Linked DNA regions of Homo sapiens. The protein of the gene in region 1 purifies or fractionates together with the protein of each later gene. This does not show direct contact. Each region holds a gene or a part of one and is shown in the gene's direction. Other genes may lie near its edges.

Evidence for each region.
Region 2: the proteins of VEGFD (region 1) and OAF purify together in Homo sapiens (affinity purification with mass spectrometry; 2 studies listed by BioGRID and IntAct, with this or other methods). This does not show direct contact.
Region 3: the proteins of VEGFD (region 1) and KCMF1 purify together in Homo sapiens (affinity purification with mass spectrometry; 3 studies listed by BioGRID and IntAct, with this or other methods). This does not show direct contact.

The regions. Positions count from the first base shown.
Region 1 is NC_000023.11:15,350,949-15,361,652, reverse strand, and holds part of VEGFD (vascular endothelial growth factor D preproprotein), read left to right. Parts: intron 1-3,459; coding exon 3,460-3,650; intron 3,651-6,354; coding exon 6,355-6,503; intron 6,504-8,484; coding exon 8,485-8,585; intron 8,586-10,704. UniProt on the Homo sapiens protein: Growth factor active in angiogenesis, lymphangiogenesis and endothelial cell growth, stimulating their proliferation and migration and also has effects on the permeability of blood vessels.
Region 2 is NC_000011.10:120,211,785-120,222,488, forward strand, and holds part of OAF (out at first protein homolog precursor), read left to right. Parts: intron 1-10,704.
Region 3 is NC_000002.12:84,972,931-84,983,634, forward strand, and holds part of KCMF1 (E3 ubiquitin-protein ligase KCMF1), read left to right. Parts: intron 1-10,704. UniProt on the Homo sapiens protein: E3 ubiquitin-protein ligase which accepts ubiquitin from an E2 ubiquitin-conjugating enzyme and then transfers it to targeted substrates, promoting their degradation by the proteasome.

The DNA.
Region 1 (10,704 bases):
ATATATAGCATAATTCAAATTAACCACTAGGCCAAAACTATTTTTTTCTTTCTACCTAAAATTGTATTTGTTTTTTCCCATTTGTAAAAAGATGTTGGGGTTGCACAGACCTCTGTTGTTGGCTGTGGGGAGAGCTGTGCATAGATGGGGACATATTCTTTGGTAGCACCTTGGGCATGAGTGTGAAGAGGATTCTTAGTGTTCATGTGTATGACTGTGTGTCTAAGTGAGTTGATGTGGTAGGAACCATAGCCTCGAGCTCACTTCAGACAGAAATTTGAAGCTCTAGATGTTTCTATGTGGTGAATTAATATAGCCTTCATGAGAACAAAGGGTTGGCACCTCATCTAGAGGTCAAAGGCCTTAACCAGATTACCTGACTGAAGGCCTGAGGTGAACCTGGAGCTATTTCATGAACATGAACGTTACCATAAAACCAAGACTAGGTGATCTAAAAAAAGTCAATGACATTGACATTTTCTAAGGAGAAAACCATTAAAATATCACGGAATTTGCAAACCCTATGAATTTATCTCGTAATTTCTAGGGGATCATCTGAAGTTATTTACTAAGTTAGAAGCAGTCAATAATGAAATCAGCATGTTACACCAATTAGAATTTGTTATCAACTCTCCCTTGTGGATTTCAAGGTAATTTCCTGAGGCAGAGCAGTCCTGCTGGGAAGCAGTAAAGAATAGTAGAGTTATGAAGCCTTTAATCAGTGATGTTGGTCATAATTGCATATGATTTTGATTAAAAGCTTACCACTCCAATTTCAAAACTTAGTTTTATAAAAAGAGAAAAAGCAAATGGAAAGCAACCTTTAAGTAGAATTTTAAATTGGGAATATTTTCATAGGTTGGTTTCTTGTTTTTTCAAGGATTCATGATTAATTATAGTGAATTAAATAATAACCATAATAATACTTAATTGAGTAATTTATCTCTCATGTGTTCAGCCTTCAGGCTTTTTATATAAATATTAATAATCAGAAATTTTTAAAAAGGTTTCTTGGGGGCTGGGCACAGTGGCTCACGCCTTTAATCCCAGCACTTTGGGAGGCTGAGGTGGGCGGATCACAAGGTTAAGAGATCAAGACCAGCCTGGCCAACATGGTGAAACTCCGTCTCTACTAAAAATACAAAAATTAGCTGGGCATGGTGGCGCATACCTGTAATCCCAGCTACTTGGGAGGCTGAGGCAGGAGAATCGCTTGAACCCAGGAGGTGGAGGTTGCAGTGAGCCGAGATCGCGCCGCTGCACTCCAGCCTGGCAACAGAGTGAGACCCCGTCTCAAAAAAAAAAAAAAAAGTTTCTCAGGATAGAATGTTTTATTATGAGGAAAAAAATAAAAAAAAACAAAGTTTAGGTAGACTGTGTAGTATAATGCAGTGCTCCAGACAACTCATATTATGTTTTCAGTGATTGAAGAAGCAACATATGAAAAAAATTGGTATTAAGGGATGAAAAAGGAGAAAGGAATGGAGAAGATGTTATAAGGGAATAATTTAGGGACTAGGGTCACATCTCAAATGGTAATATTGTATCAGTATACTTCAAGCAGACGTTTTCTCTATTCCTTCTATTCCCCTATATGGGAATTCAGGATAATCTCAGGAGAGTTCTTGAAAATGCAGTAAAAATAAAGGAGAGTTTGCCTATTGTTGCATAACACATTACCACAAAACTTAGCTACTTAAAACAATATTTATCTCAGTTTCTGTGGGCCAGAAATGCTGACATGGCCTAGATCAGTTTTTCTGCTTCAGATGTCTCTGGAGGCTGCAGTTAAGATGTTGGCTTGGGCTGCAGGCATCTTAGGGCACAGCTGAAGCAGAGTGTGCTTTCAAGTTCAGTCAGCTGTTGTTTGCAGGACTCAATTCCTCACAGGCTGTTGGACTGAGGGTCTTAGTTCCTCGCTGGCTATTGGCCAGAGGCTGCCTCAAGTTCCTTGTCGTGTGGACCTTTCTAACATGGCGGCAAACTAACACAAGAACTGAAAACCAAACACCGCATGTTCTCACTCATAAGTGGGAGTTGAACAATGAGAACACATATACACAAGGAGGGGAACATCACAAACCAGGGCCTGTTGGTGGGTGGGGGGCAAAGGGAGGGAGAGCATTAGGACAAATACCTAATGCATGCGGGGCTTGAAACCTAGATGACGGGTTGACGGGTGCAGCAAACCACCGTGGCACATGCATACCTGTGTAACAAACCTGCACGTTCTGCACATGTATCCCAGAACTTAAAGTAAAATAAGCTAAAAAAAAAAAAAAAAAAAAAAGCCTGCAAGTGGAGAAGGAGGAGAGAGAGAGAGAGAGTGTGTGTGAGAAAGTGAGACAGAGTAAGAAAGAAGGGAGCTTGCAATAAGTAGAAACAAGACTGCAATCTTTTTTAACTTCATCATGGAAGTGGTATCCCATCACTTTTGCTGTATTCTCTTCATAAGAAGCAAGTTACTAGGTTCAGCTCACACACGAGGGGAAGGCATTTACACAAGGGCATGACTATCAGGAGATGGGGACCACTGGGGGTTAGTTTCAAAGCTGCCTACCACAAGAGATTTTCACCAGCACCACAACCCCACACATAATAAATAAACTCTACAGTTCCATGGCAAGCTACAAGGAAGTCTTTGTGTTGTCTTTATCATAAAATTGAATCTTTCCCCCAAAACACCTGTAGAAAGGCTATGCAGCATTAAGTATCAAAGGGTCAAAATCTAATTTAAAAAATAAATTATGAGAGAAAAGCAAGTACTGTTTTACAAGAAAGTATATAATTTTTTTATTCCCATAGGCTTCTTTTTTTGTTACCTTCAAATTAACTATGGTCAAAGGATTGCTCATTCCAGTAATAAGAACAGGCTTATTTCATCATTTACATAAATATCAGTATCGGGCACTTGCAAATGAGAAAACTCTGATTTGAGTAAGGATTAGTTTCACTTCAATTTCCATTTATGCGTTTGCCAAGTTTAAATCCTACTGTAGTTACTTAAGCAACCAACAGAAACATATTTCTTGATGATGCTAAAACCTACCTACACCTGGCTTTAAAGCAGAAGAAATGCTATCCAGCTGTATCCTATAAATTGCTTGATAAATAATATTTACATGTTATTTCTTTACACGCTTCTATTTACTTCCCTATTAACCAGCTTCTCCAGATGTATTCAGTGTAATTATGTACAGGACATGGTGTTCTACCTCAAAGGGAAATAAAATACTTATATTCTACAAGGTATGGTATAAATGGGAAAGAGCACAGAGATTGGTTGTAACTTCTCTGCAAACAATCTTTGGTTAAAGGACTGACAAAAAATATCCATCTAGTAAAAGAAACAAGCAGTAGAAATGTGAAAATGACTGTGTTCAGCATAACCCTGGCACATGTTGGCACACCAGGACCATTCCACCTGCTAGCCCCAGTGAGCTTTCTTTCTCTCTGCAGTTATAGATGAAGAATGGCAAAGAACTCAGTGCAGCCCTAGAGAAACGTGCGTGGAGGTGGCCAGTGAGCTGGGGAAGAGTACCAACACATTCTTCAAGCCCCCTTGTGTGAACGTGTTCCGATGTGGTGGCTGTTGCAATGAAGAGAGCCTTATCTGTATGAACACCAGCACCTCGTACATTTCCAAACAGGTATAAGGACATCGGCAAGCCTGCCGTCTCTAAAGCCCTGATGATAATAGTGTTGATAGCTACAACAACCTTGTTGCTAAACACTGTACTAAATGCTTTATGTGCATAATCGCATTTAATCTTTGAAACAAATCAAGAGGGTATTTTATGCTCCTTTATAGATGAGGAAACTGAGGCTCAGAGAGGTAACTTACTTATCCAAGTTTACACGGCTGATAAATAGCAGAGCTGGGATTCAAACCCAGGTCTGTGGGAGGCCAGAGCCTGAACTCTTATCAGTTATTGTCTCTCTGATGCTATGATGTCAAGACTCAGAAAACCATATGGAAGTTACTAGGACAGGATGTTAAAAGGAATGAAGATAGCTGATGGCAGGTTCTGTGTTGCTCAAATGGAGTGATTGAGAAAAATTTAATGAAGGTTGTGGGCAGAATTGGGGAAAGAGGGATGGGACAGTGAAGCACCTGAAGCTAGCAAAAAGGGTGAGATTTCCCCACCCTTCGACTGAGGAGACAAGGGGAGGGAGCAGTTATGGGAACCCAGAGGGAAAGCGGAGAAGAGGGTTTCTGGACTGGCCACTGTCAACTCTTAGCCTGGCAGGGAGTAGGGGCAGGGGCTGGGAGAGGCAAGAGGGTTTATAGATGTAGCCCATGGAGGGCAGCGTCCTGGGGCACAGAGCCTGATGGGGAAGGAAGGGGAGAGGATGGTGTCTCTGGAGGGGCAAAGAGAGAATATCTAGCACAAAAGACATTTGGAAATAATTCTGCAGTCCCCATGAAAGAAATAATTCAGCCCTCTTCATCTTATAAATTTCCCTTTGCTTAGTAGGTAAGTTTTCCTTTCTCTGGTTACCATGTTTTTAATAAATGTCGCATATGAGAGCAGTAGTAACAAACTTGGGAAAGCAATACTAAAAAACTGTACATCAAACTACATTATTTTTGGTATCTGTTGCAAATTCTTTGAATGTTGATATACTTATTTAATTGTCAGTTTGCCTATATGGTTTATTCTCCTTTTAACTGCAAAAAGAGGTAGTACAAGAAAATTACATGCACTGAATATATCCATGTTAGGTAATTTTCTTAATGCTGATTTGTTTTGTTAATAGATTTACTTATCCTTAATTTTGTTCCTCCACCCTCTAAAATATCCTTTAAACTGCAGAGTTTCTTTTTCTAAATTCTTTTAGAGAATCTTGGAGCTTGTGTGTATTTTAACCTCTACTATTTGACAATTAGGAAAAAAAAATGACCCAAGTAGGGCTAAGCATCAATTCTGAGTAGAAAAAAAGCTTGCATAACGTAAGAGGGTTTAGTTCATGATCATGTGATTCCCTAGAGCATAGCCAAAAAATTGTGCAAGAAGATGAAGTTTATGCAAAGTAAACACTACAAAAACACTCTCACTGAGACTCATGGAAGTTCCATTACATATTGAGATGTCAGAATAAACACAACCTTAATGGATTGCTTCCACTTAATAGATAGTTGAGTACTTTATTTTGACTGCTGTACTCAACAAATGATTAATTTCATACAATGTACTTAAGTGTAAGTGTACAGCAGTTTTTCTTCCAAATATGCATTTTTGAACATTTTAATAGTAGTTTTTTAAAAACTATCTCTCGCCCCAAAGTTATGGACTATTTGGCAAACCACCTCTTAGAAACAAAGTGAACAAATGAATACTCTATGTAGTAAGGACTACATGGAATGGTGATTGAATAGACAATGCATTAAAATCAACTTCAAACTCATCCACACATCATAGAACCACTCAAGAAAGTTGTGTAATCTCTCTGTACATCTGTTTCTTCACCTGTAAGATGGGGATAATAAAAACCCACCCCATAATGTTGTTATAAGGGGTAAATGAGTTAACATGAAAGCACTTACAACAGGGCCTGGCCTACGGAAAGCGTAGAAAGAATGATATACATGTTAGCTATAATTATTTGTTTGGGCATGATGATCTTGTATCAGTCAGCTATTAATACACAGTGCTACGTAACAAACACACTAAAACTCAGTGGTTCCAAACAACAATGATTTACTCTCACTTATGTATCTGAGGTTCAGTTAGTTTAGGGTGGATTCAGCTGGGCTTGACTCTAAGCTGCAGTGTGAGTCCAAGTCAACTTCTATGTTTCCCATCGCTTGGACCAGCAAGCCTGCCGGATTATGTTCTTTTCATGGCTATAGCATAAGTTTGAGAAAACAAGCCCCATAAAACATGCACAGTTCAAATTTGTACTTCTGTCATGTCTGCTAACATCCCACTAGCCAAAGAAAGTGACATGGCCAAATAAAAAGTCAAGAGACAGGAAACTATATTTCTTCAATAGAGATGGTGTGAGAAGGGATGAATAAATAGTTTGAATAATAATCTATTCTAATAAAATCCTAAAGAAACTGCATAGCTTTAATCTCATTTAACCCTTACGATTTACACTCAAATTTAAAGCAGGAGCAGGGATTAACAGTACCATTTTACAAGAGTATCAATGATCAAAAAGTTAAAAGATTTGACCAAACTTAAACACTTCATAAAGTTAGATGAGCCTGTTTAGTTCCATTCTTAATGGACAACTTGGCTAAAGTCATTGCCGTAAATGACAAAGGCAAAAATTCAGACTAGAACAACTTTAAAAATGATATATAAAATTAAAAAAATATATTGTGGTTATCTTTCTCTGCTGTAGCTCTTTGAGATATCAGTGCCTTTGACATCAGTACCTGAATTAGTGCCTGTTAAAGTTGCCAATCATACAGGTTGTAAGTGCTTGCCAACAGCCCCCCGCCATCCATACTCAATTATCAGAAGATCCATCCAGATCCCTGAAGAAGATCGGTAAGCACTTTTGTTTTTTTTTTTATACTGGATTATGCTTATTTTTGCCTTGCCAAAACTGTGTGTAGAGGATTTTTCATTAATGTAGAGTTATCAATTTATCTTCAAATTATTCATATTTTAGCTTCTAACCTGAACCTACTGGTAATAACTGGCAAATACATATTTTTATTAGATGTTAGATATATATTGTGGTAGGACCAAAACGCTCAGTGGTATGAGCTTGTCATGTCTACTTGTAGACACGTTTGTTCTTAATATGCATAGTCTACTGCAGGTGTAAAACCGCTGTAACCTCAAATTTAGCACATGTTCCAGAACAAGCATTAAATAAAACTTATTTCAGGCTGTTTGTATATTTACATCCTGAAATGAGAGAAAACAAAGAAGATTCCTGGGGTCATTGGGGAGTGACAAAACTAGCAGCACGTGAGTTTTGCAACTTTCTAATCTTTCCCCCTTAAGATTACCAAATGGAAAACCCTTATTTTAAATTAAAATGACTTAAAATTAATTTGGCTTTGAAATTCTCTTGAGATTAATTTTGTGATTATTTATAAGACAAACGACAAAACCAAAGGTAAGGATCACTTATTTGAAGAAAAAAAAGGATTTAATATAAAGAAACAAGTAAAGGGTAACTGAATGAAAAGATCATTAGTTAGATACTTAGACTTTGCAAAAGTAAAGCAATAAATATATTGTGTGAGTGGCAAGTAAAAGAGTAAGCTGGTGATTAGTTAACATTGAACCAAGAAGACACCTCCCGCCTCTCTCCAGCAGAAAAGAAAACTTGTAGAAAAGCAACATTTATTCTCAAGATGTTCCTGCTGTTCTGGCCAATGCTTTTATCTTTATTTTAAAGAAAATAATCTTAGGGGCCGGGCACGGTGGCTCACACCTGTAATCCCAGCAGTATGGGAGGCTGAGGCGGGCAGATCACGAGGTCAGGAGATTGAGACCATCCTGGCTAACACGGTGCAACTCCGTCTCTACTAAAAATATAAAAAAAAATTAGCCGGGTGTGGTGGTGGGTGCCTGTAGTCCCAGTTACTTGGGAGGCTGAGGCAGGAGAATGGCATGAACCTGGGAGGTGGAGCTTGCAGTGAGCCGAGATCGCGCCACTGCACTCCAGCCTGGGCAACAGAGGGAGACTCCGTCAAAAAAAAAAGAAAAGAAAATAATCTTAGGAGGTATGTTAGAACATATTTAATTTTCGTAAATAAACTGTTGACAGCTATAATTTGCATAGTTTTAACATATACCTTCTTAAGAAGATTACAATTTCCAAAATTACAGTTTAGTTTCTAAACATTTCCACGTAGAATATTTATAATTACAGAATCACTATCTAGTAAGATGCAGTTCATAAATACAAATTAAGCTCCTTTAAAATCTTTTTTTTTTTTGAGACGGAGTTTCGCTCTTGTTGCCCCGGCTGGAGTGCAATGGCGAGATCTCGGCTCACTGCAACCTCCGCCTCCCAGGTTCAAGTGATTCTCCTGCCTCAGCCTTCCAAGTAGCTGGGATTACAGGCATGTGCCGCCACGCCCGGCTAATTTTGTATTTTTCAGTAGAGATGGGGTTTCTCCATATTAGTCAGGCTGGTCTCGAACTCCCGACCTCAGGTGATCTGCCCGCCTCGGACTCCCAAAGTGCTGGGATTACAGGCGTGAGCCACCGCACCTGGCCCGCTCCTTTAAAATCTTAACTCTTCTCACATCCTTATCATTTTGTGGTGAGAACATTTGAAATTTACTCTCTTAGCAATTTGGAAATATAAAATACATTATTATTATTGACTATAGTTACCATGCTGTGCAATAGATCTCAAAACCTTATTTCTCCAAACTGAGTATAAAAAGCAAAAAATAAATTTAAAAAATCTTAACTATTATCTACTCAGGAATTTATTTAATGTTCCAAAGTTTTGATTATCCTTGAAAGCTTTTAAATCTGGTTCATTGTTTTCTTTTCCTAGCTGTTCCCATTCCAAGAAACTCTGTCCTATTGACATGCTATGGGATAGCAACAAATGTAAATGTGTTTTGCAGGAGGAAAATCCACTTGCTGGAACAGAAGGTAATGATAGTAGTAGTAAAATAATAACAGTAATAATAAAAGTAGCAACAATAGCAGCAACCGTTATTGAGTACTTAGTATGACCAGACAATGTTGTAAATCTTGTATATGTTTTAACTCATTTAATTCTCACAACAACCCTGTAATGTACTATTGTTATTTCTTTTTTTACAATTACAAAATGGGCACACCAAGATATCGAGTAATTTCCTCAAGGTCACACAGCTGAGAGTGATAGAAGTGGTCAGATTCCAGAACCCTCTGTACCATAATCATATAGTAAGTCCATCAATGCATCACTCTGCTTTTTAATCTCAAAGAAAAGCCCAGAGTGGTTGGAGCATCCTGAAACACTGAAATTGAAAGGGGATGTTAAACTTGAATGAAAGCTGCTTCAGAACTAAATACTAGTCAACTGCAGTTTACTAATTTATTTGTATAAAAGTCTCACAGGAACATAAAGTAATTTTGGACTTGGTTTCTGTCAGCTGCATCATATGAAAACACGCCAGTAATTTGAAAAAAGAAATGGAGAATAAGAGAAAATTTTTCTGGAATTAGGGCAAAGCAAAAGCAAAATATGGCTATTGGTCTAAGGGGAGCTGGGAGCAAAATGAGATATAGTCAAATTGTCATTGCTCATAATCCGTAATTCTGTGACTTTGGGTGATGAACATTTGCTTGAAAATGAATGCATTTTAATGTATTTTCCAGAGAGCTTTACATGGTTCCACCAAAAAAAAAAAAGAAAGAAAAAAAAAGTCACAAGTAGTCATGCAGTTTTAACCTTGCTTGTTTTAAACTATAATCTATAAGCAAGAACAGTAAGGGCTAAACTCTAAGAAATCTGTCCTATAAACTGTAAATAGCAACCTACTCTCCATTCTTCTGCCTCTCAGCTTCCTTCTAAATGTTTTCACGAAAGCTCAGCCCAGAGCATGTGGGGAAATTTAATATTTATGTGGTTTAAATGCCCATGCCGATCTTGAATGTTCTTTACACCCTTCCCACCAAGTGTTCAGCCATCCTCTACCAGAACATACATCAGTTATTTGGAGACTCGCCATCCAGTGAGGCAGCACCAAGGGGTGGGCACACTCCTGTTGTTATACTGAAATGAAATCTCTCTCCAGAACAGACCAGACTGCCCAATGGAATACAATAAGAGTCATATATGTAACTCACATTTTACATTAAAAAGATAAAAAGAAACAAGTGAAATTTATCTTAATATATTTTATTTAATCCAATCTATCCAATGTACTATCATTTCAACATGCAATCAATATAAAAAATTTATGAGCTAGCCTACATTCTTTGTGCTAAGTCTTTGAAATCCAGTGTGTGTTGTACACTTACAGCACATCTCAATTTAGACTCTCTATTTCATGCCCAATAGTCACATATGGCCCATAGCTACCTTGTTGGACAGCCCAGCTCAAGAGCATCAACTCATTAGTTCAGGTTTTACCCTATAGAACCATGTAAAACAAATCTAATTCTTTCTCCATGTGACTCATGTTCTAAAAGTGTTAGAAAATTTTTGTGGGGTTGGCCGGGAATGGTGGCTCATGCCTGTAATCCTAGCACTTTGGGAGGCCGAGATGGGAGGATCACTTGAGGTTGGGAGTTTGAAAACCAGCCGGGCCGGCCGGGCGCGGTGGCTCACGCCTGTAGTCCCAGCACTTTGGGAGGCCGAGGCGGGCGGATCACGAGGTCAGGAGATTGAGACCATCCTGGCTAAAACGGTGAAACCCCGTCTCTACTAAAAATACAAAAAAAAAATTAGCCGGGCGTAGTGGCGGGCGCCTGTAGTCCCAGCTACTTGGGAGGCTGAGGCAGGAGAATGGCGTGAACCCGGGAGGCGGAGCTTGCAGTGAGCCGAGATCCCGCCACTGCACTCCAGCCTGGGCAACAGAGCGAGACTCCGTCTCAAAAAAAGAAAAAAAAAAAAAAGAAAACCAGCCGGGCCAACATGGCGAAATCCCATCTCTACTACTACTAAAAAAAAAAAAAAAAAAAAAAAAAAAAAAAAAAAAATAGCTGGGCATGGTGATGTGCGCCTGTAGTCCCAGCTACTCAGGAGGCTGAGGCATGAGAATCTCTTGAACCTGGGAGG
Region 2 (10,704 bases), on another chromosome or scaffold:
ACTGGACTCCCTTCTTGGAGTCATTCCCCTGTGCTCTAGTGGGAAAGTCCTAGGCGAAGTGTTCTCGCTGTGGGCTCTCACTGTGGGTTCTCCCTGTGTGATCTAGAGCAAGCAAGCCTCTTTCCTCCTATGGGCCTGGCTTCTCACCCCTGTACAGGGCACTGAGGGGTCTGCGAGGCCTCCCAGCCCTGACATTTTGGAGTCCCTCTGTCACCTCTCCCTCTGTTTCACTTTTCTGGGGAGAGCTGGTTGCCCCTGGTCCCTCTCAAGCCGGGAGAAGCCCTGTCTCCTCTTTGGTCTGGAAGGCTGGGGCGCTTGCAGCAGGAGGATCCTGGAGAGAGACCCCAGCTGAGGCCCCCTCCCTCTGGGAGAAGTGCTGCCCTTCACTCTGCCTGGCAGAGAAGCGAGCCAACCCCCCTATTTTGGCCCAGATTAGGGTTAGGGAGTTAGAGACCAGCCCGGTGGGTGGGTGGGTGGGTGGGTGTGGGTGTGTGGGTGTGTGTCCCAGATTACGGTTTGGGAGTTAGAGACCAGCCCGCTCTTGGTGTGTGTGTGTCTGTGTTGGAGGGAATAAGAAGGGCCTTGCACCCAGGGGGCTGGGGGATTATCAGGAAATGGGCCTGGATGGTGAGTGACTAACAGTGACCCAGCAGCAGGAAAGCTGGAGGAAAAGAGGGTGGGTAAGTCTTAGGTATTCAAAAGGAGCGTTCTGTCTCCTTCCCCCAGCTAAAGAGAGGCCCTGTGAGGCTCTGTCCCTGGGGGAGTGCAGGGGTGAAGCCGATTAGATAGCTGGGGGAGCCCGGGGCCCCGGGGACCCTTGCTGAAGCTGCCTGTCTTTCCTCCCTCGTAGAGACAGGGCGCTTTAGAGGAGAGGTGGCGGAGTTTGGGAAGTCAGTTAGGGACCCAGCCAGATTGCCATAGTTAGCAGGGGTGAGGGGTTAGGCTTGACCGCTAGAGGTGGGTGGGGTTGGGGGGTGAGGCTTGACCGCTGATTGCCCCAGGGCCACGGAGTTGGCACTGACATTGGACATAAGCAGGCAGATGGGGGGTGGGGTAGTGAGCGTTCACAAATGGGAAGACTTTGTAGCCCATCCTTACTCCGCAGGCCTAAGCTAGGCACCCTGCCTCCCCACCTAAACCCTAGGAGAATTTTATCAAGTGTGTTCTGTTCCTGAAAAATCTATGTTAGTGGCTGGATCCATCAGGAATCGGGGATCTAATCTTCTGTCCAAGCCCTTTGTCCTTGAAAGTTAGCCTTAGGCCAGGCTGTGAGGCTCCCAACCCCCTGCCCACTGGATGTCATCTTGTGGCTGCACTAGAATCCTGCAGAGAGACTTCCCTGGCTGTGGCCAGGACAGTGAAAGGCAATGGGTAGGGCTGAGCTTTTATAGCCTTTAGCTACATCTGGAAGGTTTTTATTGCTGTGATCTGAAGGGAGAGGCTAAGAAGTACCCAGGTAGCTGTGATGTGCTGGCAGTAGTGGCTGATGGCGGGGGTGGGGTGCTGGGGATTGGAGTGAGGGTATGCTGGTCATCTGACTGCCCAGTTAGAAAATGCATCTGGAGATTGTGAGCACCTCATTTGAATCTCTACAGTGGTTCAGACCTCCACCCAGGTTTCTAAAGTCTGATTTTCAGGTTAGCCTCTGACCCAGAAGCTACCATTTCATACCCACCTCTGGCATCTCCAATTTCATCAGCAAGGGAGGGAATTGGGAGTGGAAGACACCGAAAGGAAACCAGCTTTCCCAAGTCCCTTTAACTCCAGGTTTCTCCATTGGCCTAGGACGGGGTGGAGTTGGAGAGTGCAGTGTGGGGGAGAATAGCCTTACCCTCACCCAGGCCACTCACTCACTGCCTGCACTGGCCACAGCAGCTTCTATGTCCAGATCCTTCTAGGGTGGGTCACCTCTCAGTTCTCAAGGCCCCATGCCTCATAGTGTTTGTCAGATTTCCATAAGAAAGTTTGGTCTAGAAGGAATGATTTTTCCTATAAGAAAAAGACTTCGGCTCGGTGTGGTGGCTCACATCTGTAATCCCAGGATTTGGGGAGGCTGAGGCAGGCTTATCGCTTGAAACCAGGAATATGAAATCTTCAGGCCAAACGAGACCCCTGTCTCTACAAAAAATTTAAAAATTAGCGGAGCACGCTGGTGTGTGCCTTGTAGTCCCAGCTATTCAAGGAGGCTGAGGCAGGAAAACCACTTGAGCCCAGGAGCTGAGGCTGCACTGAGCTGCAATTGTACTACTGCACTCCAGCCTGGGAAGTCACGCTTTTTGTGTTTCTTGTACCAAACTCATTTGCAGTGATTTGGGAAAAGTCCTCATCTACTTGGGAAGAGCCTTGTTTGCCATTTGATCACGTTGGGGAGAACAGTCCAGACTGAATGAGACAGACTTGGTTTACCACTTATTAGCAGGTTCACCCTGGGCAAGCTACTTGATCTCTCCAGACCTTCATTTCTTCATCTATAAAATGGGGATAATAATAGCACATATCCCACAGTTAGTAGTGCCTATGACATCCTTACTCTGTATTAGATACTGTGTTAAGGGCTCAAGACATAGGAGCTGTTAGCTTTGCAATTGTGGCTCACACAGCATTTCAGCAAGGATCCTCTCTGCTAAACTTGGACTCAAAGACATTGAACAACGGACCCAAGGTCATGCAGAAAAGTCAGTACTGAGCCTGGAGGATCCTTGAGCTCTTCATCTTAACCTTCTCCTTGAAGTGCCAAAATTGCTGGCCAGCCCCTCAGAGCAGGAGCAGCCATCCTTGTCCTGACAGTCCACCCAGGGCAGCAGTGAGCCTCCCTGTGTGGGATGGGACCAAGGCTTCTGTCTGATTCCCAACCCTATCCAGCCCCCTCTCTCCAGCCCTTCCCACCTGTTTGCCTCTACCCGCGTCAGAGTTCTGACAGTCTAACTCTCTCCCACACTACTGCTCTGGACCTTGACGCAGCAAAGCAGTCACAGTCGTCAACCCACTGGAGGACACATAGCCTGGAGCCCAGGTGAGGCTTGCAGACTCAGTAGCTTGGAGCTATCAGATGGCCATCCTGCATTACTGCAAGCCCTGCCCAGAGGCTGAGTGAAGGCCATCAGGCTGACCGAGCCACAGCTCTGAAAGAATGCCGCAGCTCAGTGGCTCCCAGCTTTGCCGCACCTCACAATCACCTGGGGAGCTTTGAAAATTCCCACTGCCTGGGCTGCACACCCTACCAGTGAAATCAGAATATCTCAGGGTGGGAGTCAGGCAGCAGTCGTTTTGGTTTTGTTTTTTCTTTTAAAGAACCCAGGTGATGTAATCCCAGCACTTTGGGAGGCTGAGGCAGGCGGATCACAAGGTCAGCAGTTCGAGACCAGCCTGGCCAATATGGCGAAACCCCGTCTCTACTAAAAAATAAAAAATAAAAAAAAATTAGCTGGGCATGGTGGCATGCACCTGTAGTCCCAGCCACTCAGGAGGCTGAGGCAGGAGAATCGCTTGAATCCAGGAAGCGGAGGTTGCAGTGAGCCTGGATCGCGCCACTGCACTCCAGTCTGGGTGACAAAAGAACCCAGGTGATTCCAGTGTGCAGCAAAGTTTGGGAACCACTGGCGCAGTTGCTCTAGGGGAGGGGAGGGGACCTGGAGAAGGAGCCAGCTCAGGTTAAATGAGGGTAGGGCCCAAACTCAGTCACATATTTGAAACCTGTCATCTTACCCACACTAATCCTAATGTGTTTTGAGCAGCACATATACTTCGGGCCTAATGCTGTGTGCCCTCAGTACACAAACTAATTCACAGCGCGCCCTTGGTGGGCAACACTCTCCTTTATACTCCACATCCTATGGGTGTAATTAGCCCTGGATGTACATAATCACTGGCATATCTAATCATAGGTGTGTCACCATCCCCTCTCCCTAAACTGGCTATTTGACAGCCCTTCTGGTCTACCTCCTGGAAGCTGGTATTCTTGCCAGTTTCTCTTTCACCTCTGTCCCCTAGTCCGAGTGGCCAAAAGCTGGGAAGAGGATGAGTCACGCTCCAGGCTGCCTGCCTTGGGGCTGACCGGATGGGGAGGGTGATACTGACAGATATGAAGAAGGTCATGTGTGATGGCATCACGGTGGTGGGCGGTGGGGGTCCCTTTCCCCTCCCAGCATCAGGGAGGATAGGGAGACACAGACTCCAAAAGTGTGGAAGGAGGGGATCCTGAAGGCCCACAGCTGGAGCCCTGGAGGGAATAAGCAAGATAAGGGGAACTGTACAGCTGTGTGGGTCAGCTCAGGGCCGCTTCGAAGGGACAAGGACCCATGGAGGATGGAAGCTTGAGCCCTGTCCTGGGCACTGATGAGTGAGTGGGAGCCAGAGGAAGGGATAGTCCAAAGAATGCTAGGGCCCCTGTGCCGGGGGGCCTGGTCTGTGGGTGGGGGAGCAACATGGGAAGCCTTGAGGTGCAGTCAGTAAAGATGTGGAATGTGCAATGTCCACGTTGCCACCTAAGAACGTGTATCCCAAGGAGATATCACAGCACATAGATGTGGGACCGAGAAGCTTTCAGGGCCCAGTCTGCCCCTACCCTGTCTGTGTTAGCACCCTTAAGATTTGGCGTGGAAGCATCTGATGGATGGAAAGTCTCCTTGGGGAGGAAAAGGCAGTGGAGGTGCTTTCGGGAGAGGCCCAGACTTTTCTGGAGCTCAGAGCATTTCCTCACAGGTATTTACAAGAAGTCGCCAGATGGAATGACCAGGCTCACTGACATGGGGCTCCTGGGTCTAATATCTGTCCCTCCTCTGCGTGTGAGGAATTCCTCCTCAGATCAGGATGGCCAGCCCTGCCTGAGGGTTCAGACCCCCTCCCGGGAGCTTGGCCAGCATCTCCCACCCCTGAATGCTATGTCCAGGTGGAGTCCTAGCAAAAGATCCCGGTAGGCCATGAAGACTGCCACCTGGGATAATGGAGGATCCTGCTGGGAAGCTGGTGGGGAGAGTGAGTTAGTTCCCTCCCAGGCTTCCCAAGGCACAGAGAGGTGGTGGAGATAAACTTAGGACAGACTCCTGTTCCGCTGGCGGAGGGCCCAGCCTTGAAGTGAGGATTGCATAGGGTCTGGAGATCACCCATTGAGCAGTCCCTCATGTCACACATGCTCTTATCTGATCGCCTGGAGCTCTCAAGTGAGGCTGACAAGATGAAGCAGCTGATGATCCCAGATTAGGACCCAGGGTTCCTTCCAGTATATCCTGACTGCCTGTCTGCCATGGTACCATGAGTGGGCTCCTTCCAGTAGGCTAAAGAACCCTGGGGAGGGAGGTGGAGGGGAGAAGGAGGCTGGAAAAAACCTTGGTGCAGAGGAACAAATCCACAGAGACCCTCGTTTGTACAGACTTGGGCTGGACCACTTCCCCCACGCTCTTACCTCCAGTGGATGGAGTGTTGGCTACTTGGCCATGCCTGCAACTCCTCTCTCCCCTGCATGGCCTCTTGGGGAGCTGGGTGAGGGGGATGAGTTTGGAAAATATCTCACCAAGGCCAGGTGTGGTGGCTCATGCCTATAATCCCAGCATTTTGGGAGGCCGAGGCAGGCGGATTACTTGAGGCCAGGAGTTCGAGACCAGCCTGATCAACATGGTGAAACCCTGTCCCTACTGAAAATACAAAAATTAGCCAGGCATGGTGGTGTGTGCCTATAATTTCAGCTACTCTGGAGGCTGAGGCGGGAGAATCACTTGAACCGGGGAGGCAGAGGTTGCAGTGAGCCGAGATCACGCCGTTGCACTCCAGCCTGGGCAACAGAGTGAGACTCCATCTCAAAAAAAAAGAAAAGAAAATATCTCACAGACACTAGTGAGCAATCACTATGTACGTTTTTTCCTGCCACTTACCCACTGTGTGACTTGGCAAGTCACTTAACCTCTCTGAGCCCCAGGCTCCTTGCCGGTACACCAGAGACAACAGTGTGATGCTTGGGGTTCAGTGTGCGCAGTGACTAAGAGGCCCTTCGCAGAACAGAGGCCCGCGTGGGCATGTGAGGAGTGAGGTGCCAGTGCCCGCTTGGATGTCCGTCTACCCCACCGTTAAGCATGTTGCTGCAGCTGCTGCTTTTCTGCTGTAGGGACCAAAGCATCATGAGGAGCTAACATCCTTGAAGTTGGCAAGTGTTGAAGTGGCTGCCACTAGGGATTCAGATAAAGGGCAGGGAGAGGCATCAGGGCTGGGAGTGCGGGTGAGAGGGAAGCATGGAGACCCGTCTCAGGAGCACTGAGTCAGCAGCACAGTGGGGCGCAGTTGATCCACATAAAGCCTCACATTGTTCCTGCAGCAGTCAGGACAGTGGTGACCTTTGGGATTCGGCTGACAGAGCACTGCTCTGGGGAGGGGCTGGGGGCAGGAGCACTGCTCTGGGGAGGGGCTGGGGGCAGGAGCACTGCTCTGGGTGAGTGGTTGTGCTAATGCCCCAAGACAAGCAGCCTCTGTCCAGGCCTAGCCCTGAGGGGATGCTGGCATCTCATCATGGGGCGGCCTAGGTCCCTGGGCACTGGCCTCGGGATGTGCGTGGCCTGGCTCTGGGTGGAATCCATCCACCCCGTTCCTGCTCGAGAAGCCTGGGCAGAGCAGCCAGGGTGCTTCCAGCTTTGCCGTGGGGCTAGGAAGGCACTGCTTCCTGGCTGGCTCTGCAGGCTAAACCCCCTCTCCCCTCCCCAGCCCAGCGAAGCCAGCCACTTCTCTAGCCATAAAGCAGCCCCAGCCAGGAGCAGAGGAATAAATATTTAGATTGGCTCAGCCTGGGCCCCAGAATCATGCTCTCTGGTGTGACAGGAAGGAGACCAAGATGGCAGAGGACACTCCCAGGAGAGAGCGCCAGCTGTCCAGGAGCAAGAGGGTTGGAAGAATGGGAGGGGGCCAAGTGGCTTGTGTGGCCCTAGAGCGATGACCTGCAGCCTGGGCCATGACCAGCACTGGACAGTGGTGGCTGGAAGCAGGGTGTGGAGGGAAGGGGCAGTCTGCTGCCCTGGCCCCCTTTGCTTTCCATTCTCCTGCAGGCGGGCCTCCCCCCAAACCCCAGGGCTTTCTGGGGAGGGGCTGAGGAAGAGCGCCTGGAGAGTGGGGCCAGCTAGGGACCGTGATGGGAAGGCAGGGTGCCAGAGGAGACCGGGCAGGCTGGAGCAAGGTGATGACATGCGGTAAGAGTGTGTGCCTGCACATGCACGCATGTACACGTGTGTGTGTGTGTGTACACACGTTATGAGAAGTGGCATCGGGAGGAGGCGTGTGAGGAGAATCGAGCAAGTGAGGAGGGTGATGCGGGGTGTGCCCTGACGCTGGGCATGAGATGGGGAATTCACAGGGGGGGTGGGCGTGGGGACTGCGGAGAGGGGTGTGATGAGACGGTGGGGAGCCGCCTCTGCCGGCAACAGGGAGACTGAGGGAGGAGACAGGCCCAGATGCACCCCTGTGGAGGGAATGGGAATGTGGAACAGGAGCCACTGGGAGACCTTGCGGGAAGGAGACTGAGACCCAGCTTGTCTGTGAAAGAGGACGGTGTGCGCGAATGGGGAAGCCGTGTGAGCCTGTGCATCAGTTGAGATTAGGCTCAGCCGTGAGCAACATAAACCCCCAGGAACAGCGGCTGAGGCCGTGGCAAAACAGCCTGTTTCATTCTTCCCAGTGTTATCTGAGTCTGGAAGCCAGTCAGGGCTGGTGTGACAGCCCCGCTATCCCCTGGGATCCAGGGGCTCCCTCCCCACCCTCAGTGCTGAGCACAGGATGTCTGCCCAGGGGTGCTCTGCCGTCTCTCAGCGCATTCCCCCAGTGCAGCTGAACCAGAGCAGCCTTCCCTCTGGAGACACAGGTGGATCCCAGTCAGACAGCATGGCTGGGATGGGCACAGGGAGGAATTGAGTATCTGGACAAGGGCTACGGAGGGGAGCCAGGACAAGCATGAAGATCACTGGACTCAGAGTCAGGAGGTCTAGGCTTCTGGCCCTGGCTCTGCCACTGTGTGACTCATGAAGGTTACTTCCCTGCTGGAACCTCACTGGGCCATGAACTAGATGATCCCCTAAACCTTCTAGATGCCAAAATAGCAGCTGTAGCACTATCAGCCTGCAGGAGCCCAGCTGCAGGCAAGGCCGAGAAGAAAGAGTGTCTGCACATTGGAGGCCAGTGGGTTGATGGAGGCCCTAGAGCATTCATTCGTTCCTCCAGCTACTAAGCATTGAGCCCCAGCTGTGCGACAGACCCCAGGGTCACCATGTGAATAGGCTAGAGTCGCTGCTCTTGAGCCAGAGGCAGGTCACAGAGGGCTTGGATGACTAACTGCCTGGGCAGAAGGTGCTCCATGAGGACAGAGACCATCTGACTGGGGCACTGAGATCCAAGGCACTCTCACAACCTCAGGCAGAGTCTGATTCAGCTCCAAACCACAGGTCCCTCATGTCACCCCAGGCTCAAACCCACCAGTGACTTCCAGAGAGGCACAAGAGGAAGCCTCCCACTCCTCAGCCTGGTTCAGACCCTGCGTCCTGCTTGTGTCCTGACCCCTTGCCAGCCTCATCAGCACTCACGACCCTTCCCCTCCTCCCCTAGTACATTCCCACCGCTTTTCTCAGAGAACTCTTCCATGCTGTTGTTCATTCACCCTTCATGTATTCCTTATCAGATGTTTATTGAGCACCTGCTGTGTTCCAGGGGGCAGGGATGCACTTCAAGCAAGCCACTTTTCCTGGCTCAAGAAGTTGAGTCTGGAAAGAAAGACAAGTAAAGAGGTCAGCAAAAACACAGTGGGAGTAAACAGTGGGATTTGTGCTCTAGAGGCAGCGACTGGGATTGGCCAACTCTGCAGAAGGGCTGGTGAGGGCAGCACTGGGAGGGCAGTCAGAGGAGGGTCGTTTGTGAGCTGTGCCCTGCACACAAGGCACAGCTGAGACAGCTGAGCACAGGGCATCCCGGCAGAAGAACCTGCTCACAGAAAGGCCTAGGGGTGACACAGCATCGCTCATTCTGGGAACTACAAGCTCTCCGGTTCAGTGCATGGGAAGTGCAACAGTTGCTGTGAGCAGGGACCTGGGATGCCAGGCTCTGGGGTTAGGCTTTCTGGTGAGGACAAAGGGAGCCCTTGAAGGGCATTCGGCCACTCGGGTGATAGTAGCATGGAGGGATGATTGGGTGGGGGCACTGGGAGACTCATGCCTGGCTGTCTTCTGTAAATGCCTCATTGCTGGAAAGCCCTCCATCCTTTAACTGTCAAGGGCCAATGAGGAGTCCCTCACTGTGCGAAGTCTTCCCTCCCTCATGCCACCCCCAGCCCCAACCTTAAGGGGACAACGAGCACTCCCTCATCCACCCTTTACCTCCATTGCACTTGGAGTAAACCTCAATCCTAGGCCTATTGTTTGCTGACTTGAGTTGTCAGAAGTCAGCCTCCTCCACCATCCCCTGGAAAACAGGAATCTGTGTCTTGGCCAAGGCCACTCCCCTGCCCAGGTGTTTGTGAAGGCCCTGCCCCATGTCCTGCTAATCAGTGCTCTCCCACTGATTGGCTGATTACTTGCAAGCCCCAGAGGAGTCACCTGACCTGTCTAGGCCATAGGTACATCTAGAAGAGAACAATCTCAACTCCTGGGTCTTCAGGAGTGGAGTAGATTTCAGGTGGAGCAAGGCAGACATAGAGCCAGGAATTGCAGCCACAAGAGAGAAACTGAAAGTTCAGCCCACTGTGTTCTGAAACCTTTCACTCATTTATTCCCTGCAACAGTCCCTTGAGGTAGATACTATCATTTTATTCAGCTTGCCAATGTGGAAACTATGGTACAGAGAGGTTAAGTAAATCCCTTCAAGGTTATGTGGCCAGCAGAGGCAAAGCCAGGATCTGAACATGGGTAACACTGGCTCCAGAGCCTTTGTTCTTAAATTCTGTGCTATCCTAGAGCCTACCTACTCCTTACTTAAAACTACAGACGAGGACCCTAGCAAACACTATTTCCCCAGGGTACTTGCCACACCCTCTGCGTGGCCCAGATCCTGGCCCTGGATGTAGTATGCTCCAGTTCTTCCAGGTAGGCTGGAGATTCCTGGAAGCTTGTGGGAGAAGGAGCCTTATAACAACCTCCCGTCTTGGGGACCCTATCCTGGGTCCTGAGCCTCAGGAGCCTGCCTGCAGTCCCTGTTGTAGGCTCTTCCCCAGCTAAGCATCTGCTTTAGGTGTTAGGCCACATGAAGTACGTCATCCCAACAGATTCCTGGGCAAGGAGGAAGGCTGGGAGTCAGGCTTCCATCTGGCCTGGGCTTAGCATCTGAGGGGACTTTCACCCTTCCCTGTGAAGGTTGGAAGAAGAGGGGGCCCCAGAACCTTGCCAGGGAGTCTGAGGTGCAAGGAGTGGAAAGCGGGAGGGACACTGGTCAGGATGATGGAGTCCTGTTACCAAATAGACCCAGAAAGTAGGGCTGCCCACTCCTTCTCAGGGATCAGCAAGTGGAATGTGCTTTTCTGGGGAAATAGGACGAAAGGGCCGGGCGCAGTGGCTCACACCTGTAATCCCAGCACTTTGGGAGGCCAAGGCAGGCGGATCACCTGAGGTCAGGAGTTCGATACCAGCCTGGGCAACCTGGTGAAACCCAGTCTTTACAAAATACAAAAATTAGCCGGGCATGGTGGCACATGCCTGTAATCCCAGCTACTCCAGAGGCTGAGGCCGGAGAATTGCTTGAGCCTGGGAGGCG
Region 3 (10,704 bases), on another chromosome or scaffold:
CACAGAAGTAGGAAGCTATGCCTCTTTTCCCCACTTCGTCTGCTTAATCGAAATGTATCCTTATCTCTGTAATTTTAAGAACTCGTAATTAAAGTTATAATCAGTTTTCAATTTGGGATATTAAAGTTTATCTTAAACTGTAGTCCTGTGTACATTGACCACCTTCAAGACAAAACAAAAGTGAGCAATGGCTGCAAGCTCTCTTACTCTTGAAAACTGGGAGGGTTAGTTAGAGAATCACAGCCATGGAAGAGTGTTTCAGACCCATTCTCCTTGGTCTAAGAAAGCATACAGATAGTTCCAGACGAGCATTCTAATTGAAGTGTCCTGGGAAGAAAATTCCTTCACCCCCAGTGCTCTGTTAGAGTAATTAAAATCTCATATTTGGAACATTCTTGAATGTAACATATATTCTGTAATTTAAGCCCATTTCCCCCCATTTGGTGCTGTGCAAAGGTGTGTGGTTATGAAACTTATATTACCTTTTAGTTACTTGAATATTGCTGAACCTCAGCACACTAGTAGCACACCTTTCCTAGTAACTTATGTTAATGTCAGTAAATAGAACATACCTAATGAAAAAGGAACATACCTAAATACATCTGTTGAAGACTTATAGTACAATATTCGACAAGTGATTCTCTTTCAAGGGTCTAGTTTATGGCCTAAGACAGGAATAGCAGTCTCACGAATCACATTTAACTCATTAGATACATATTTTGTGGAATATTAGTTCAGACTGTCATTATTGTCATCAGTAAGACTTTGACCTATCAGTAAATACAGTGTTTGGCACCCTTGCTATTAGTTCTTTTCTTACCTTTGCCTTTTTTGGGCCAAAGAATCCCATTTCTTTCAGCATTTCTTTCTTTCTTTCTTTTTCTTTATTTCTTTCTTTTTTTTTTTTTTTTTTTTTTAGCTGGAGTCTCACTCTGTCACCAGGTTGGAGTGCAGTGGCGTGATCTCGGCTCACTGCAACTTCCACCTCCCAGATTCAAGCAGTTCTCCTGCCTCAGCCTCCCAAGTAGCTGGGATTACAGGCGCCTGCCACCACACCCATCCAATTTTTGTATTTTTAGTAGAGATCGGGTTTCATCATGTTGGTCAGGCTGGTCTTGAACTCCTGACCTCAGGTGATCCACCCGCCTTGGCCTCCCAAAGTGCTGGGATTACAGGCGTGAGCCACCACGCCCAGCCTCCGTGTTTCTTTAGTGGTGTAATTTTTGCACTCTCAGTCATCTGTCCACCTCCAAATTCTCTGTAGTTCTCATTTCCTTTCAGTAGTGTGATCCTGAACTGGATATAATAGTCTGGTAAAAGGTTTGAACAAGCCTATCATGTTGTACTTGCTTGGTGCTTCCTTTTCAGGGCCTTATGTGTGCAGGTAATATGTTACTTTGTCTTTGTACCCACCCTAATGAATTACACTAAATCCTATGATTTTATTAATGTAACTTTGGATGACACAGTCCTGAGATGGACACCTGTCAAGCTTGAAGGCTCAACCTTGTGAAGCAGTGCCTCTGAGAAAGGCAATGCAACCAGGAGCATAGAGAGATGCTCTAGTCCCGGGTTCAGCATGCTTCTTCTGTAAAGGGCTAGGTGGCAAACATTGCAGGCTTGGCGGAGCTGTAATAGTACGAAAGCAGCTATAGACAACCTGTAATTGAAAGATCATGGCTCTGTTCCAATTAAAACTTTATTTGTGGACACTGACATTTTAATTTCATATATATATATATATATATATATATATATATATTTTTTTTTTTTTTTTTTTTTTTTTTTTTTTTGAGACACAGTCTTGCTCTGTTGCCCAGGCTAGGGTGCAGTGGCGTGATCTTGGCTCACTGCAACCTGCACCTCCCGGGTTCAAGTGATTCTCCTGCCTCAGCCTCCCGCGTAGCTGGGATTGCAGGCGCCCACCACTGCGCCCGGCTAATTTTTGTATTTCGTTTAGTAGAGATGGGGTTTCACCATGTTGGCCAGGGTGGTCTCAAACTCCTGACCTCGTGATCCGCCGGCCTCGGCCTCCCAAAGTGGTGGGATTACAGGCGTAAGCCACCGCACCTGGCCGAATTTCATATAATTTTCATGTGTCATGAAATATGATTTGTCATTTGACACCCCCACCATTCAAAAATACAAATAACCATTCTTAACTTTCGGGCTATATAAAAGCTGGTGGTGGACCGGCCGTGGTGGCTCACGCTGAGGCAGAGAATTGCTTGAACCCAGGAGGTGGAGGTTGCAGTGAGCTGAGGTCGTGCCACTGCACTCCAGCCTGGGCGACAGAGTGAGAATCCATCTCCAAAAAAAAAAGTGGTGGTTGGATTTGGCCTGAGGGCTGTAGTTTGCCTTACTTTACCTCTGCCCTAGACTGGCGCTTTAGAGAGTTGATAGAGCTTGAACTATCAAGAGTCTAGAAGGGGCCCAGTCAGCTTGGGATTCCGTCATTTTCTTTGGGTGATGGGAAATGAGTTCACAGACTGAACCAGCTCCTCCGTACTTCACTTTTCAGCAGCACCATGAGGAATGGAAATAATTGTTCCTCAGGAGTGGACAACAGGCTCCCCACCCTACAGACCCTTAGTGGAGATGGCAGTACCCTACATTTTTCCTGCTTGCCCGTTAATACTTTTCCAGTGAGAATTGTAGGGCCACTTTTAACTCACTTTGTGGTGTTCTTGTCATGTTAACATTTTATAGACTTTAGCACCCACTTTGTGTTCACCCTGCCAACACTGTCTAGTTCACAGTGAACCCAATCATTTTTTATCTTGATGTATTTTTTAAAATGTCTCACTATCATACTTTCAAATACATTTAAAATGTAAGTATGTTATTCAGAGCTTAAAATCTACTTTTAAAGCTTTCCAAATAAAAAAAAGCAACTTAACAAATTGCTCGCTGCTTATTAGCTAAAATGAAATCATGAATGTTCTTGCATAGATTAGAGCCTAATTGATTACCTGGATCTAGGTACATGTGTCGCCTTAAATCATTCAACCTTTCAGTCACTACTATGTGTAAGGCAGTCTGCTAGGTTCCAAGGAATGTGGGGCTAAGTGAATAAGATGCAGCTCCTTACTTTAAGTCTGGCAAGGAAGATGCATTTTTTACGTAGCTTCCACAGTGCATTGTGAAACATGCCATAAGGAAGGGATAAACACTGATGACAAAGTAATTGCCAACTTTTACTAATTTTGTCAAATTTCAGAGAGGTACTCTACTGTGATTCTAGCACTTTTTTCTTGAGTGCCTTCTTAACTCCTTTTTTTTTTTTTTTTTTTAAAGACAGAGTCTCGCTCTGTCGCCCAGGCTGGAATGCAGTGGCGTGATCTTGTCTCACTACATCCTCCACCTCCTGTGTTCGAGTGATTCTCCTGCCTCAGCCTCCCGAGTAGCTCGGATTATAGGCACCTGCCACTGCTACTGGCTAATTTTTCTATTTTTAGTGGAGACAGGTTTCACCATGTTGGCCAGGCTGGTCTCGAACTCCTGACCGCAAGTGATCCACCCACCTCAGCCTCCTAAAGTGCTGGGATTACCGGTATGAGCCACCACGCCCAGCACCTTCTTAACTCTTTCTGGGCTACTTTTGATTTTGGGTAAAATTGTTTGAGATTTCAAGCCGGTTGCAGTGATGTGCACATGTAGTCCCAGCTAGATGGGAGGCTGAGAGACCCTATTTCTTTAAAAAAAAAAAAACAAAAAAAAACAAATTGAGATTTCAAGTAGAGTCCTTATCTTTATCTGATTTATAATTTCTCTAGCTTTTTGAAGATTTTCACATGTAAAAATGATAGTGGATAAATGAGCAGGTGGTCATATTGTTATGCTAGTTTCAGAAGTATCTGATACTATTTATTTTTAAAATGTAAAATACAAGACTACGTAGGCCATTAATCTACTTAGTCCCAACTTTTTTTGTTTTTATTTTTTTAATTGGCAAAAATTGTATATATTTATCATGTATAACATGATGTTTTGAAATATGTATACATTGTAGAATGGCAGCTCCAACTTTTTGAAAGTTGTACCACTCTTTTCTTAGTAGATTCTAATTTTCTCTCTCTCTCTCCTTTTTTATAATTATTTTTTTTTACTCTCTGTTGCCCAGGCTAGAGTAGAGTACATTGGTGGGATCTTGGCTTACTGCAACCTCCATCTCCCAGGCTCAAGTGATCCTCCCATCTCAGCCTCCCAGAGTGTTGGGATTACAGGTGTGAGCCATTGCTCCTAGCCTTAATTTTCTCTTCTCAAAAAATGTTATCTGCCACTGAAGCACACATATAGACAGAAATAATTTGGTTTTGGGATTTGGGGACTGCAAAGCCAAGATTGGTAATTAGCATGTGATTTTAATGCAGTGCCTTTTGCCTCCCTATAGAAATGTAAGTGGACTCCCACTGATAAGATCCTTACCATCAGGTCTTCTTACAACTTATTGTACTTTAACTGTAATCTGTTAACAGATTATGACATTCTTAAGACTTTTTCAGTTCGTTTTTTGTTTTTGAGACAGGGTCTCTGTCGCCCATGCTGCGCACCAGCATAGCCCGCTGCAGCATTGACCTCGCAGGCTCAAAGAATCCTCCCACTTCAGCCTCCATAGCAGGTCGGACCACAGGTGTGCGCCCCACACCCGACTTTTTTTTTTTTTCTTTTTTGTAGAGACTGGATCTTCCAGTATTGCCTAGGCTGGTCTCAAACTCCTGGGCTCAAGTGATTCTCCCACCTCAGCTCTCGAGTACTGGGATTATAGGTGTGAGCTGCCATGCCCAGCAACTTTTTCAGTTTGAATAAATCGTAAATTACATTTACCTTGACTTTCAATAGAGAATATATAAGAATGTAAATTTATGGGAAAATGAATCACATTTTAATTTCTGGGGTCTTTGATTTCATAATTTCATTTAAAGTTCATTTTGAAGCTCATTTTCCCATATTTTTATATTCATGTTTAAGTTAAAATGTAGTAAAACATAACTACATGTTCTTGTTTCAAATTGGGAACTCAATTTGGAAGAGATTCCTTTTAGTCTGAGATTTTAAGATGTTTTAGCAGCAATCTTTTTTTTTTTTTCTTTCCTCGCTCTTGTTGCCCAGGCTGGGGTGCAATGAGGCGATCTCAACTCACCGCAACCTACGCCTCCCAGGTTCAAGTGATTCTCCTGCCTCAGCCTCTCGAGTAGCTAGGATTACAGGCATGCGCCACCTCACCCAGCTAATTTTGTATTTTTAGTAGATAGAGGGTTTCTCCATGTTAGTCAGGCTGGTCTTGAACTCCCGACCTCAGGTCATCCACCCGCCTCGGCCTCCCAAAGTGCTAGGATTACAGGCATGAGCCACCGTGCCCAGCCTTAGCAGCAGTCTTGTAAGATGGTAACTTTTTCACAGTAGCAGCTTATGAAACTTATGATGTGAAATAACTAAACAGACCCCTTCATATTAAGCTTTGCAACCTTTTTAAAAGAAATCCATGCATCATAACTTATTTTCAAAACATCAACTTTATGATATCTATCATATATATTTGCCTAGGTTTTTTGTCTTTTGGTTTTTGGGTTTTTTTTTTTTTATACTTTAAGTTTTAGGGTACATGTGCACAATGTATTTGGGTTTTTTTTTGAGACAGAGTCTCACTCTGTCATCCAGGCTGGAGTGCAGTGGCATGATCTCGGCTCACTGTGGCCTCTGTCTCCCAGGTTCAATAAATTCTCCTGCCTCAGCTTCCCAAGTAGCTGCATTACAGGCATGTACCACCATGCCTGGCTAATTTTTGTTTGTTTGCTTTTTGAGATGGAGTTTCGCTCCTGTTGCCCAGGCTGGAGTGCAATGGCGCGATCTCAGCTCACCACAACCTCCACTTCCTGGGTTCAAGCGATTCTCCTGCCTCAGCCTCCCGAGTAGCTGGGATTACAGGCATGCGCCACCATGTCTGGCTCATTTTGTGTTTTTATAGAGACAGGGTTTGTCCATGTTGGTCAGGCTGGTCTCGAACTCCTGACCTCAGGTGATCTGCCCACCTCAGCCTCCCAAAGTGCTAGGATACAGGCATGAGCCACCGTGCCTGGCTAATTTTTGTATTTTTAGTAGAGATGGGATTTCACCATATTGGCCAGGCTCGTCTCGAACTCCTGACCTCAAGTGATTCCCCCTTCTGCCTCCCAAAGTGCTGGGATTACAGGTGTGAGCCACCGCGCCTGGCCATGTTTTTTTTGTTTTTAAACTAGAAGCTCCAAAAGTTTTTAGTGAAGGCTAAGCTGTCATTGAATTATCCTAGAAATAATGTTTTTTAAATCACTTTATGAGCTGGGCGCTGTGGCTTATGCCTGTAATCCCATGGGAGACCAAGATGGGTGGATCACTTAAGGTCAGGATTTTGAGACCAGCCTGGCCAACATAGTGAAACCCCATCTGTACTAAAAATACAAAAAAATATCTGGGCGTGATGGCAGGCGCCTGTAATCCCAGCTACTCGGGAGGCTGAGGCAGGAGAATCTCTTGAACCCAGGAGGCGGAGGTTGCAGTGAGCTGAGATCACCCATTGCACTCCAGCCTGAGCAACAAGAGCGAAATTCTGTCTAAAAAAAAAAAAAAAATCACTTTATAAATATAGCTGTGGGGCTACTTTCATGCATATGGACTCAAAGGAAGCGCTCCCTAAACTGCATATTCATAAAAGTTAAAAGTAGAATGCTGTTCCTAATAAAAGTCTTTTTTTATAGAAGATTAATTTTTTAATTAATTTTAGTGTTGTGCTAAGGACCATGATGTTTTTCATTTCCTTAAAATTATAAGGTATTTTTTCAGTCTTTGAAGTTATTCATTAAAATTGAGAAAAGAACCCGTAAGCAGTATACAGATCAGAGCATCTTAAAATTTGGTAATTTTTTTTTTTTTGAGACCGAGTTTCACTATTGTTGCCCAGGCTGGAGTGCAGTGGCGCGATCTCGGCTCACCGCAACCTCTGCCTCCCGGGTTCAAGTGTTTCTCCTGCTTCAGCCTCCCAAGTAGCTGGGATTACAGGCATGCGCCACCACGCCCGGCTAATTTTGTATTTTTTTTTTTTTTGTAGTAGAGATGGTGTTTCTCCATGTTGGTCAGGCTGGTCTTGAACTCCTGACCTCAGGTGATCTGCCCACCTCAGCCTCCCAAGTGCTGGGATTACAGGCATGAGCCACTGCGCCCAGCCAGTTATTTTTATATGTTAGCCATGTCTTGATTTATGTTAAAGATCTGGGATAAGGCAGACAGTTTCCTAAAGGAACATATTACCTAGATTACATGAGAAGGAAGTGAGGAGCCAGGAAAAGATAGGCTGTTCTTGGGTTGGTAAGGACCAGTGGCCAGGTGGGTGTTGGCAGAGGAAAGACAGGCAAGGTGGGTGTGAAGCTTGGAAATGGATCTGTAGCTACAGGATGTTGGAAACAGAAAACCAGCTCTCACGCCTGATGGAATGTCTTGAGAGCTGGGTACCAGGAAGTGAAAACACTGCCCAATGAAATGAACAAGAGATGAATGAATTGCCTTGTTAGGCACCTTCCACCATTCCCTCTCTGCTACATCCCTGATGGCCCTCTTGGTGTTTGTTAACCATGGTAACTGCCTGTAGAATTGTTTTTAGTTGTTGGCTCTCTGAGTTGTAGCAAAGTAGAATTATGAGTTCATCCAATTCATATACACAGTCAATTAGCCTCATATCTTTTTTTTTTTTTGTCTTGAGGCCGGGTCTCACTCTGTCACCCAGACTGGAGTCCAGTGACATAAACAAGGCTTACTGCAGCCTCAACCTTTGGGCTTACGTGATCCTCCTGCCGCAGCCTCCCAAGTAGCTGGGAGTACAGGCATGTGCTACCACGCCTGAATAATTTTTGAAATTTTTGTAGAGATAGGGTCTCATTGTGTCATCCAGGCTGGTCTTGAACTCTTGGGCTCAAGCAATCCTCTTGCCTCGGCCTCACAATGTGCTGGGATTATAGGTGTGAAGCACCACACCCAGCCTAGCCTCATCTCTTCTATGGCCACAGTGCCAGCCAGCAGTCCATCAAACTTTGCCAGTGGCCACGGGGGTACTGGCAAAGAAGTATAGATGGATCCCTGTAACTTAATCACTGCTACTAGAAAAAAAAAAACTGAGATCAGAAGAGTGGGTCAGTTGTATTACCCTCAGCTAGAAGAAATAGCAGAAGAATAAGTGGATGAAGCATCTTGATATCATGACTAATTAGGTTTGCACATTATCTTCTGTTGAATTTTTTTTTTTTTTTTGAGACAGAGTCTCACTCTGTTGCCCAGGCTGGAGCGCAGTGGTGCAATCTCGGCTCACTGCAAGCTCCGCCTCCCGGGTTCATGCCATTCTCCTGCCTCAGCCTCCCAAGTAGCTGGGACTACAGGCACCTGCCACCGCTCCCGGCTAATTTTTTGTATTTTTAGTAGAGACAGGGTTTCACCGTGTTAGCCAGGATGGTCTCGATCTCCTGACCTCGTGATCCACCCACCTCGGCCTCCCAAAGTGCTGGGATTACAGGCGTGAGCCACCGCGCCTGGCCTTTTCTGTTGAATTTTAATGTTTTTTTAATCTCTTTTGCTGGTACTCAGTGCCAGTGTCATGATATCAACTTTTTCTACAGTAAGAGGATTTTCATTAGGAGAGTCACTTTTTAGAGTACTAGGTTGATGAGTTGACTTGGAACAGTCACAGGTATATTTGATTATAATTTATTATTTGGTTATGACTTTTATTGTTCCTTTGAGACTCTGTCATCCTCCCTACTCAGCAAAGTAAAGGGTCTCTCCAGCAGCACTCCTGTCTTATTCTCCAGGCTTTTTGTTTGTTTGTTTGTTTGTTTGTTTTTTTGAGATGGAGTCTGGTTCTGTCGGCCAGGCTGGAGTTCAGTACCGCAGTATCAGCTCAGCTGCAGCCTCCGCCTCCTGGGTTCAAATGATTCTCCTGCCTCAGCCTCCTGAGTAGCTGAGATTACAGGCGCCCACTACCATGCCCAGCTAATTTTTGTATTTTTTTTAGTAGAGACAGAGTTTCACCATGTTATCCAGGCTGGTCTCGAACCTCTGACCTCAGTTGGTCCGCCTGCCTCTGCCTCCCAATGTGCTGGGATTACAGGCGTGAGCCACTGTGCCTGGCAATTCTTCATAGATTTGTGATTATCTTTTGATACTTAGAAAAGAGCTAAAGGGATTAAACATTTATTTTTGTGTTCAGTGTAGTTTTTGTGTTACGGGTTTTTGTGAATGGTTAGATAACTAACAACTATTGGGGTGAATAGCTGTACCCTACTGTTCTTGTTCCACCAGTATTCTCCTTTGGTGTCCTCTGTGGTTGTAGAGGTTTGGCAGTGTAAGCAGAGAAGTTTTCTAAATTAGGAGTTAAGGATGTTGAAGTAGAGCAGGCAGGGATTATATAAAGGAGTTACAGATGTGTTCCTTATTTTCTTTTTTTTTTTTTTTTTTTTTTTTTTTTTTTTTGAGCCAGTCTTACTTGTCGCCCAGGCTGGAGTGCAGTGGCGCAATCTCGGCTCACTGCAACCTCCACCTCCTGGGTTCAAGTGATTCTCCTGCCTCAGCCTCCCGAGTAGCTGGGATTACAGGCATGCACCACCATGCCCTAATTTTTGTATTTTTAGTAGAGACGGGGTTTCGCCATGTTGGCCAGGCTGGTCCTGGACTCCTGACCTCAGGTGATCTACCTGCCTTCGCCACCCAAAGTGCTAGGATTACAGGCTGAGCCACCATGCCCGGCCCTTCTTTTCTATGATATTGAAATACATGCTGGGAGTTGAGGATGGTTGGATGGTGAATGGGAACCCAGGTAGTTTTCATGTTCAAAGATCTTGATGTTCAGTCTGACACTGTTAGGGATTTGTATGTAGTTAATTGCGGTTCTAAGTCAATGTAAATTATACAGTGTGTTTGTATGGCTATACATATGAATATACATAGTGGTCACAGAGGTGGGACTGATTTTCTCTTCTCTAGGAAAACTGGTGATAAGAACGTCAAGTGACAGTAGATGAGAAATACAAGTGTTCCTATATTAGATCAGTATCAAGGGTCTTCATTCTGAGTCAGACATGCTGTATATTTTCATGTTTCTTCGTTATTCTAGATCATATTTTCTACAAGCTTTTTAAAAGCCACCATTGGAAGAGAAATAACAAATCTACTTGCAGAATTGGCATAGACCATTGCTATCCAATAGAAATCTAATGTAAGCCACATACATAATCTTAAATTCCCTGGTAGCCACATTTTTAAAAAAGGAGGTGAAATTAATAATGAAATAACAACCCACTATATCCAAAATACCATTTCAACATGTAACTGACATAGAATTGTTTATGATATATTTACATTTTTTTCTTACAAAGTCTTAAATTTTTTTTTTTAAGAGACAGAGTCTCACTCTGTTGCCCAGGCTGGAGTGTGGGGGTGTGATCGTACCTCACTGCAGCCTTGACCTCCCATCCTCAAGAGATTCTCATACCTCAATCTCCTGAGTGGATAGGACTACAGACATGTGCCACCATACCTGGCTAACTTTTGTTTTGTTTTTTTTGCTTGTTTGTTTGAGATAGAATTTCGTTCTTGTAGCCCAGGCTGGAGTAAAATGGCGTGATCTCAGCTCACTGCAACCTCCACCTCCTGGGTTCAAGCAATTCTCCTGCCTCAGCCTCCCAA